2 separate regions of the Homo sapiens genome follow, and region 2 is linked to region 1. The links come from fine-mapping of genetic effects on gene expression. A gene starts in region 1. The other region holds a variant in brackets. All regions are shown on one strand. Distances are between the middles of the regions. Region 1 holds the start of C12orf60 (chromosome 12 open reading frame 60). Region 2 overlaps ART4 (ADP-ribosyltransferase 4 (inactive) (Dombrock blood group)).

Region 1 (5,386 bases):
AAAAAGAAAAACCTGTGAAGGTGAAGACAAAGAAATAGCTTATATCTCCTAAATGTATTTCTTCCTTTTTCTAGTCCCTACCAATCTCTGAAAAAAAATTCCTTTAATTAGAAATTCTGTGAGACTGTTCTTTCCTTAGTTTTGACTTTAATGTCCAAGAAAGATGGCATCACCTTTCTTGACCATGAAAATTTAGATCTCTATCATTCTTCAGAAATGTGATGAGTGTGAAGACCACTTTGAATATCCTCAAGTCATCAGTTTAGCTTTTTTCTTATGGATCACAGCACTGACTTTGTCAACTGATAAAAACAACTAGAAAATGCTTTAACGATATGGCACAAACCATGAACATCAGAATTCATTAGTCCTTCTTCTATAACCTCCCTTTATTAACATGTAATTGTAAAAGAAGAATAAGAAGGGAATGGGGGTAATGGATCTAGGCTCAAAACACATACCTCACCTTTGCCTCTCTCCATGGTTTTTCTTGGCATGTATGCTGTACATTCTCAATACTTCTAAGACACTAAAAACTCATTAATTTAAGCATATTTAATTCAGATTCAGTTCTAGTTCAGATATAATGCTTGACTCTCAAGAGTTCAAAACACAACTAAAAATGCAAATATTTGAAATTAGTGCTATACTGAGAGCTCCCCAAAACTTAAATATTAAGACACATATTTTTCTTACTAAGACCTGACTCCCAATATATATTTCTTAAGGTAATTAAAGGGAATACTTATTTTTGTTTGAGGAAAAAATATTTTGTAAGCTAAAACTTTTATTAACACAGTACCCTATTACATGACTTCTTCCTCTTATTCCAAAATAATGGGGCTTAATTTTTTGAAGCGCAGTCTTTCCAGTAATAAAGGCGGACAAATTTGCTTCCTTTTGCAAGTAGACACTTTTTAAAGGTAAGAAAGGGAAGATTTTGTCAGCCCAGTTTATTACAGTTAATGTCTCTTTCACCAAGTGTCCAACTGCCCCGAAAGCCAGATGTTTCAGAAAGCCAGATGTTTCACAGCTGTTCTGGTGGCAATTACTTCAAGACAGCGGTATCAAAGGCTCTGATTTTTAGCTTCCTCATCTAAAAAATGGGGACATCAATTACTTTATAACAAAGCTCTGATGATACAATGAGATTACAAATAAAATATCCTGTGATGTTTGACTCACTACTTAACTAAAATCTTTATAATGGATCCATATTCCTGGCCTAGCTACCATACACCCTGTCAAGTGGTTTCCTTCTAAGAAAAACTGGGGATGGGGGGGTTAGGGGGGTGGGAGAGCAGCAGGGAGTAGGAGGTAGGGAAGGAGGAAAACAAGCAAAATCAGTACATATACAAGCTCTCCCATCTTTGATTGCCTGCGTTTTTTGTGCTTTCCTTTCTCAAGTTTCCTCAGGCTCATGTTCTGAATCTCCTCCCCCACAAATGAAACACAACGGATACGAATTACAGAGAATTTTACGGAAGACACTGGAGCTTAAGTCTGCAGATTAGTTTTTTGTCTACAAGCGGAGGCGACTGGAAAATCAAGCCAAATAAGCGTTGGATAACTCTAAACAGCCAAAGAAGCTTCAATGGGATAGGGTCCAGGTTCACCAAAGGAGGCAACACCAGCAACTGACGAAACCATAGCGACGGCTGACCGACCATGACTCGAGGTACAAGACGTCAAACCTAAGGCTACTAATCAACGTGCGTAAGAAGCGGCCCCAACCGACCCGGGCGATGCCAACCGCGCAACCACTGGTCGCCGCGCCACCCCAGGCCCAGGAATAGCCCAGTCCGCAACAGGGAGACCTCAACCAGGGAGAGGAGGAGCGGGGCAAAGGGGCTGGGTGTCCCCCAAGCCGCTGCGCGGGACGTGGAAGGGACGAAAGAGGTGAGGAAGAGTAGTAAATCAATTCAATACACTCACACTTCTGCTGTGCTCCCAGGACTACGAGAAGCGGGTAGGGGGCGACTCCCGGCCTCTTTCACTTCGTAAAGGCCTTCAACTGGGTCTCTCGGTCAACCCCTCAGCTACCGCCATCTTGAAACCTCGCGCCCCTCCGCACTCCTCACGTCATTTCCCATTCCTCTGTCCCGCCTTCTCTTAGCGCCGCTTGACCCTGGAACCATAGAGAATACCCAAGAATTCCAGGACCAGAGTCTCTTCCGGTTCCATACAATACTCAATTGGTTGGTTGTCGGCTAAGAGCCCGCCTCATTGCGCTCATCTAGTACAATAGGAATTAGAAGAAGATAGCTGCTAACTGAGTGGCTGACGGTCCTGTCTCTCGAGTTGGAGGCATCTTGACTTAGTTGCTGGGAGCCTGGTACGTTGAGCCGTCCGAGAACGGTACATTCTGCAGATAAAGAAGCGTTCTGCGTTTTCTGTCTTTTGGAATTACCTTAGTTTTTGCATTTTTCTGTTTCTTATGACCCAAGCAGGTGCGATCCTTTAGGGGTGTCTCCGTGTGTAAACGAATACCCAGATAACATTTGCCACTGAGTTTAATCCGCTTTGTAAGCATCAGGTTATCCCATGTGAGCGCCTAGTACGTGTGGAAATTTAATAGACAGGCAGAACAGAACGTTTGTAGACCACCTGAACAAATAAATTAGCACCCGTATTAGAGTCGCAGATTGCTTATATGGGCGGTGATTTATTATTTGTTAGTAGTGTTTTGAAGAAGAAATACGGGGATACATATGCAGTCGGTTTTAAGTTATATGAGTGGCAAGGTTGATATATATTGGCTATATTCCCGACTGGTCTTTTCACCAGCCAAAAGTCCTCTATGATGTCACTCTACGTACGGGATTCTTCACTTAACTCTAGCCTTCGCCCTTTCCCTACCTTCTATCCCCTCTTTCCGTGAGTCAGCCCCCACTTATTTCCCTTAAAGGTAAGTTTAAACATTTAAAAAACTATCTTAGAGGATACGCTTGGTTATTTCTAATCTTAACCTGACTATCCCATGTAGGAAGGCTATTCTTACCACCAGTTATAAATATTTCAAAATATTGATGGAGATACATACTAATTTTTAGCAGAATCTTTAAACTGCCCTTGAAGGTATAAGATCGGTCCTATACCTAAACTTACCTTTGTGTTAGGAAATTCTTGATTTGATTTTAGACTGAATTTGAGTGTCAGAAAGCAATGACGAGATATTGTAGGTTAAAGCTGATAAACCAGGTAGTACATAAAAAAGAAAATAATCTTGAACTGCGAAGGTGAGCTAAGTTGTAATGTTTTGCAACTAGTTTTTTTTCTTTCCTAACACATTAGTGATCATAGTTTTGCAACTCGTTTTGAAAAACAATGCAAGAAGAGAAAGAGAAAACAGTGTATGTTGGAAATATTAAAGTCTTTCATGTAGCTAAAATTTTATATGTAGCTACTATTTTTAAGATATGCTGAGCAGTTTTTATTTCAATACATTTCTTGTACTTGGATGGGAGAATCAACTATAACAAACACAGTCTGGCATCAACAGCATATTAATAATTTTGTCAGTATAGACTAAAAGAGTCCTCATGGGAATTATTGGTTGGCAAAGGATTTAGAAAACAAACACATCTGCAGAGATTCAGCGGAACCATTAATAGGCTTCCATAGCCTTTGGCGTTTTCTAAAATCAGGTAATTAGTGAAATGGCCCACCTAATGCGTCATGTAGCAAAGGCAGCTGCCTCCTTTTTGCTAGTGTTGAAAATGAAATTATATTCTTTTTTCTGAAAGCTTATAATAAATTATGACTTTCTTTTAAATGACAAATGCTTTGAGTAGTGACCTTCTATTCTGCATCCTAAATGCAATATGTGTAGCTGTGTTTTGCTTTCTTGTCTTCTAAATGTTTCAGTGTTTGAACATTCACTTGAGCGATATTTAATTATCACAGTTGGTCAGGGTTGATTGCAGTGACTGAAACAGGACCTTGATGTTTTTAGTTTTGATTTTTACCATTTTCAAATCCATCCGGTTTACATTGTGTAATCAGTAGACGTTTACAGATCAGCTTCCTGTCCTAATTGAAGCACATTGTTACAAACCATTTTTCAGTCTCTTCTAGTTTACAGAAAACCAGATTTACTCTGATGGTCAAAAATATGGTAGTATTTCTGTCTCATTCGAAGGCCTAGAGTTTGTGTCTAGGCAGAAGTTACTGAGTATGTCCCCTTATAACTAAATGATGTTTGAAGCTGGTGGTAGAAATGAAAGTCTCTGCATTCAATGTGAAATTTAAGAATTTTACTGAAATTAGAAAAGAGAAAAGTAACCCCTATACTTGCTACTCTACGATAGCATTTACCCCAATGTTGATCTGGTAGAGCAGGGTGTGAAAACATCCAGGGAGAAAATTTTTTTACCTCACAGGGTCTAGCATCAGCTGATCCAGGCATTGTTGACTCAAAACTCATCTAGTCATCTAGTCTTGGCATCTCCAGTTTCCCTCTCCAAATTGTTTATCTTATTTAAGTCCATATTGGAAGCCTATAGAAAATGAACCTAATCAAAGAAGCAAACACTGTTACTGAAAAGGAAGCAGAAAAACACTTCAGTGGCAAATAAAACGGCTGTTCATTTCATTTGGTGTTTCACTGTATTGATGACCTCAGTAATGGCATGATTATATTTTTCTGAGGCTGATTTGAACTCCACCAGATGCTTCTCATAACTTTTGATGGCTGCTTGAAGCTGTGTTTTTTCCACTGCTCCCAGGATGGCACGGACAATCATATCTATGCCAAGGCCAAGAACAGCAACTCCAATACTACCAAGGAGAGAAGCACCAATTTGAGCTAACACAGTGACCAACTTGTTAATTATGCCAGTTGTGACATTTGAGCCCACAAGTTTAACAGCGACTGCACTGGCTGCAGATGTAGCTTCTCCCAGGATGACCGAAATAACCTTTTGCACTATTGCAATTTTGTCTGTTTCCTTTTCCTTAATATCCTGAAGTTTTCTATAGAGGGTTGGCTCTAGCTTATCTTTTAGTGCTTCATCAACCTTCTGCAATTCCTTTTGGATTTTCATAATGGCTTGGATGATGAGGTCACAGTTTTCTTTGATGGTCCCATCTCTTTTCATCTCAATGGAGGCCAGCCTGCACCCCAAGTGCATATTTAGAACCTCAGTCAGCTTATTGGTGACATCGAAGCTGTCAGATAAGCAATCAAGAAGCTGCTGGTGAAGACGATTTACTTCTTCCCGCCTTTTTGGGTTCTCTGGGTAAAGGAAGTCACTTTGGGCCATATTTCCAATATGATCGCTGAAAAATAAAATGGTAAATTTTTACTGAAAGTCTTAAAAAATGTCTGCTAACTGTGTAGAAGGGACTAGGAAATCTTTTTCTTCATGCATAGCAAAGAAGCAAG
Region 2 (5,365 bases), 25 kb after region 1:
ATGCTTTTGGCTGACTTTTTAGCTTCACTGAGTGGCTTCCAATTTCCTCTCCAGCCCACATTACCCCTCACTCTCTGCCAGACCTATCTGCTCCCTGACCTTATGCTGTACATACATCGATCATTCCGTATTCGCTTCTATTTTCTGCTTTCCTCTAAGTAAAACATCATCTCTGATAGAAAGCTTTATCTAACCATAGGCCAGAGGAATCACATTTTTCTCTCAGCTCCAAGCATTTAATATTTGGCCTTGTTTTGGGCACTACGCACTTGGCACATACTCTTTCTTGTTTTTTTCTCCTTCTGCTCACCCCTTCTCCCAGCCTAGAGCCCTAACGGCTGGTTCAAATGCAGCCTCTTACTTAAAGCCTTCCGGGTGTCTCTTCTTGCCTCAGTTGGAAGAAATCTTTCTTTTGAATTGTTATGAACAGAAAACTTGATTTTTGCCTTTTTTTTTTTTGGCATTTCACTTGTGGCTTGCTTTATGTTCTTAATTTCTCCTAAGAGATTGTAAACTCATGAGAGATCTGGCCTAGTGTTCTTAACTTTTAATCCCCAAAGTGCTTTGTACACAGTATGGCTCAATACATGCATTTATATGGCACAGGAAAAATGTACTTAAGATGTTGGGTGGCTTTTACCAACATAGCATGTCATTACTGACTCATCGATGCTCACTGGAAAAGCTTGCTCCCAGAGCCATGTCCCCAGGACTCTCTACTAGGTAGCCACCAAACTGCCAAAGACCCTATCCTATGCAAGTCACATAAATTGTCTGTTTGTAGAAATTCTTTCTTTTTTTCTTTTTTTGAGATCGAGTCTCACTCTGTTGCCCAGGCTGGAGTGCAGTGGTGTGAACTTGGCTCACTGCACTACCTCCGCCTCCTGGGTTTAGGCAATTTTCCTGCCTCAGCCTCCCAAGTAGCTGGGATTACAGGTGCGTGCCACCATGCCTGGCTAATTTTTGTATTTGTAGTAGAGACGGGGTTTCACCATGCTGGCCAGGCTGGTCTTGAACTCCTGACCTCGTGATCCGTCCTCCTCGGCCTCCCAAAGTGCTGGGATTACAGGGGTGAGCCACCATGCCTGGCAGAAATTCTTTCCTTTATTGACTGTAGAGGCTACTGCAACTAGGTGACAGAGGTGATTTGGCCCTGTTAGTTTCAAATCCCAATTTAAAGAATGATAGTACAGAGATGCCTGAACTCCCTGCCAGGTAATTTTATGTAGCTTATTCCCCATTCCATTTCTTTGATCATGACACAGGCCATTCAGGAAGTCCTATGGAGAGTAAATAGATGGACCGATTTTCAGTTTTGCTGTTTCTTATCCAAATCTTAAAAGGGATAAGGAGCATGGACTTTCAAAATCCAAAATTATAGAGCTAGCCCTCATCTTTACTCCATTTAGCCTGATACCAGGGTCTTCAGTGATCGTGATCGGGTTAAATAATCCCTTATGTCGCTACCTAAATTACTACCTGAGGGAAGCGTTAGAGGACATTTCCAGCTATACAATTCAACAATTTATACTTCTTTGCATGTACTAGTTTACATGTAATGAGACCTCGCTATATTGCTGATATTTGTTTGTAATCAGTGTTTTTTTCTCTCATACTCTCTGTTAACCTTCACACATACCCTCATGTTTTCCTAATATTTAAATTTGCTATGAAGACTTAAATTTGCCATCAAGTTCTCTATGAATTAACATATGAGTTTAAATTTTAACTTTTGTAATGTCTTAGGAACATGCATGAACACCCATTACTGCTGGTGAATGAAATTTCACTAACATCTTTCATTAACTTTCCCTTTTATTTCTCAAGTTTCCATGTGTCTTCTCATCTGAGGCCATACTAGCTTAATCTTGAATGCTCATAAAAAATCTCTGAAGAAAATTCACACCTTGGTTAATCTCTGGGGTTCAAAGCTTTTCTGTTTGGTGAAGAATTTGTCCTTTGCTTTCTAATTTAATCTTCTTTGATTTGTTCCTATTTAGAATAACTAAATTAAAAAAAATAAGGAAGAGTGCTTGTATTCGTTGGAACTTCAACTGCTTGATGCTTGACATAGAAAATCTAATTCAAATTATGCAAGCAAAAACATAAATTATTGATTTATGTAATGAAAAATCTTGTAGTATTCAGCTTTAGGCAAAGTTGGATCCAGAGGCTTATACATTCTCATCAGGTCTCAGTTTCTTTTCACTTATCAGCTCTTCCTTTGTTGTGTTAGATCCTTTCTCAAGGAGATGGGGTCTCCTCTCCTGGTGGCGGGATCTTTGCTGGCAGCTATAAGCTCCTACCCTGCTTTCATTAATATCCATTCAGAAAAGAAGCTCCCATTCTATTTCCAATTGCAATTCCACAAAAGTACCCTGATTGTATCTCACAGGCTCTGATTGGATCATTTTCTATTCCAGCATGAATCTTTGTGTCCATGAAGAAGAAATATACTGATTGGCTAAGGCCTGAGTTACAGGCCAATCACAGTCAGTGGGCTGAGCCAGCTCTGCATCAGTTGCTAGCTGGGCAGAGTGATTTCCCCAAGAGTACTTAGGGTGCCCAGATTGAAATAAGGCAAAGGGGTACAAGGAAAGGCATAAGAGAATTAGCAAAGAGGAGGCCATGCACTGGTTTCAGCAGAAGTATGATGGGATCATCCTTCCTGGAAAATAAATGTCCATTTCTAGCCAAAAGGCCAATAAAAAAGATTTTATTTAAATATTTTTTTTAAATAAAAGGAGCCACAAGATTTCTTTATACTCTGCTTTTGGAAAAGATGATGACACTGGTCAAAAAGGAGA[G/C]AGATGCAATAGCTATAGGATCAGGGATGCATTTCTTGCTGGAAGCTGTAAAAAACAAAACAAAGGAAATATTTTAGGTAGCAGAGTTTTTTTTAAAACTACCTCATCTATCCATTGATCCACTTACTTAACTTAGAAAATTCCTAATAAAAACATTTGAAGTTAGCTACTTAAAACACATTATTTTAGATTTTTCTAACATAACTTGCTTATTTTGCAGATGATGAAACAGACACCAAGAGGTTAAAAGATGTACTCCCAGGTAACCCAGCCAGCTGGTGGTAGAGATCTAATTTTCCATCTTTATCATCACCAGCAGCATAATCACTGTTAGCATTATCCCCATCTTAATTATCATCATCTTCATCACCATTATGAAAGTTAACACAGACTGAATGCTGATTTTGTGCTAGGATCTATTTCGAGCCCTTGCTATATATTAACTTAAGCCTCACAACAAACCTATGAGATTTTTATTCTCAATATCCTTGGTTTTTACTTGATGAGATTGTGACACAGAGATGAGAAAAAACTTGCCAGTGTCACACATCTTGTAAATAGTATAGGCACCATTCAAACTTGGCCAGTTTGTCTCAATTCTGCATTCTTAACCACTAACCTGTTTGTCTGTGTATTACATGTCCATCCATAGAATTTTTCATTACAAGGTGAGCAAGAAATATTCACACAATCCTGTTTGGAGTGTGTGTGTGTGTGTGTGTGTGTGTGTGTGTGTGTTCTAACTACACATATACACCTTTCACAGGAAATGTGGGACAGGTTAGCAGCCAGTTAGGTGTGGAAGCAAAACTGGAAAATAAAAAAAAATATTGTCAGATATAACTAATAATTGGCCATATAATGGGGTGGGGACTGAAATGAGATGGGAGATGGAAACCCTGTAAAAAATAGTCTAAATAAAGACTGGAATCTCTTTGCAGCCAGTTTTCACTATTGTTTAAGGTAGAAAAGATGTTTCTGGGAGGAAGAGATTCAACTCTAATTGCCTCAATATTTGCTCATATTGTTTGATAGGATAACCAGATGAGGGAGAAATACATTTCTACTATTTTCACACAATATATACATTTTTTAGTTTTTTGGAATTTCTATATAGGAGTGTGTGTGTGTGTGTGTGTGTGTGTGTGTGTGTGTGTGTGTATACAAGTAGAAATTCCAAGACAGAAAAGACAGAAATTACTCTGTGTGTGTATGTGTGTACTGTATGTATGTATATATATATATATATATATATATATATATATATATATATATATATATACAGTAATTTCTGTCTTATTTTTTTGAGTTGGAGTTCTCACTCTGTCACCAAGCTGGAGTAGATACAGTAATTTTCAAGACCTCAATTTTCACCAATAAGAGTTGGCAAGGAAAATTAAGAGCATATGTCTTTCTAAACTTTTGTCAAAGTTTGTGTTAAAATCAAATTATATGAATCCCTACAGAGACTTAGGAAGCCTTAATACCACTTTAGCAGGTCAATCATTAGAATGGTTCTCAAACGATTTTTGTTTTTTTTTCCTCTTCACTGAGGCTAAAGATCACAAGGATTTCCAGTCCCACCCTTTCCCAGTATTTAGAGAGCTTAAGGGTCTCTGTTAGGCCACACAGTAAGTGACAGAGCCAGTATTTAACCTAGAGAGTCTGATTTAAGAGATTATATGTTGAGCTTCCTGGAATGTAATGTCAATTCTCAGTCCTCACTGTATTTGACCTATCAACCATATTTATGGTAGTGAATCACTCCATCCTCCTTGATACTTACTCTTCATTTTGCTCTTAGGACACCAACTCTATCAATTTTCTCCTCCCTCACTGGCCATTCCTTCTCCATTTTTTTTTTTTTTTTTGAGATGGGTCTTGCTCTGTCACCCAGGCTAGAGTACAGCAGTGTGATCTCTGCTCACTGCAACATCAGCTCAAGTGATTCTTCCACCTCAGCCTCCCAAGTAGCTGGGTCTACAGGTGCACACCACCATGCCTGGCTATTTTTTTTTTGTATTTTTGGTAGAGACGGGGTTTTACCACATTGCCCAGGCTGGTCTCGAACTCCTGAGCTCAAGCAGTCCACCTACCTCGGCCTCCCAGAGTGCTGGGATTATAGGTGTGAGCCATCACACCTGGCCTCTCCATCTTCTTTGTACTTGACCTTTTAAAATGGGAGTGTCCTGAGGTTTGATCCTTGGACATTTTCTCTCCTTTATTTATACACCTTTGTGGGGAGCTCATCCAGTCTCTTGGCTTTAAATACCACCCATAACCCACTGACCTCAAATTTATCTTTCCATCCTGGGTCACTCGGAATTCTACACTTGTGCATCAACTGTCCACTCAACATCTCTGCTTGGGTTACTATTGCACAGCTCAGATATAACATGTCAAATACCAAACTCCTGCTCTTAAATCTACTCCATCCCCAGGCTTCTCCATCTCAGTGAGTGCCACCTCCATCCTTTCAGTTACTCTAGCCAAACCTTGGAGTCATTCTTCACTCTTCTTTTTCCCTCACTTTTCACTTCCAGTGTGTCAGGACCTCC

The links.
Region 2: its variant is fine-mapped to the expression of C12orf60 in spleen (GTEx, PIP 0.99).

Annotation. Positions count from the first base shown.
Region 1 is chr12:14,801,417-14,806,802 of GRCh38, forward strand. It overlaps C12orf60 (chromosome 12 open reading frame 60), which reads left to right and starts at 2,254. Exons shown (of 2, transcript NM_175874.4): 1 at 2,254-2,335. WBP11 (WW domain binding protein 11) reads right to left here and starts at 2,062. Exons shown (of 12, transcript NM_016312.3): 1 at 1,936-2,062; 2 at 1-12. SMCO3 (single-pass membrane protein with coiled-coil domains 3) reads right to left here. Exons shown (of 2, transcript NM_001013698.2): 2 at 3,234-5,280. The coding sequence starts at 5,264. The coding sequence ends at 4,587. RefSeq lists an enhancer at 2,358-2,597.
Region 2 is chr12:14,826,611-14,831,975 of GRCh38, forward strand. It overlaps ART4 (ADP-ribosyltransferase 4 (inactive) (Dombrock blood group)), which reads right to left. Exons shown (of 3, transcript NM_021071.4): 3 at 1-2,852. The coding sequence ends at 2,761. Among named protein-coding and RNA genes, the nearest start is that of ART4, 14 kb to the right of the region's middle. The variant G/C (reference allele first, on the strand shown) is at 2,808.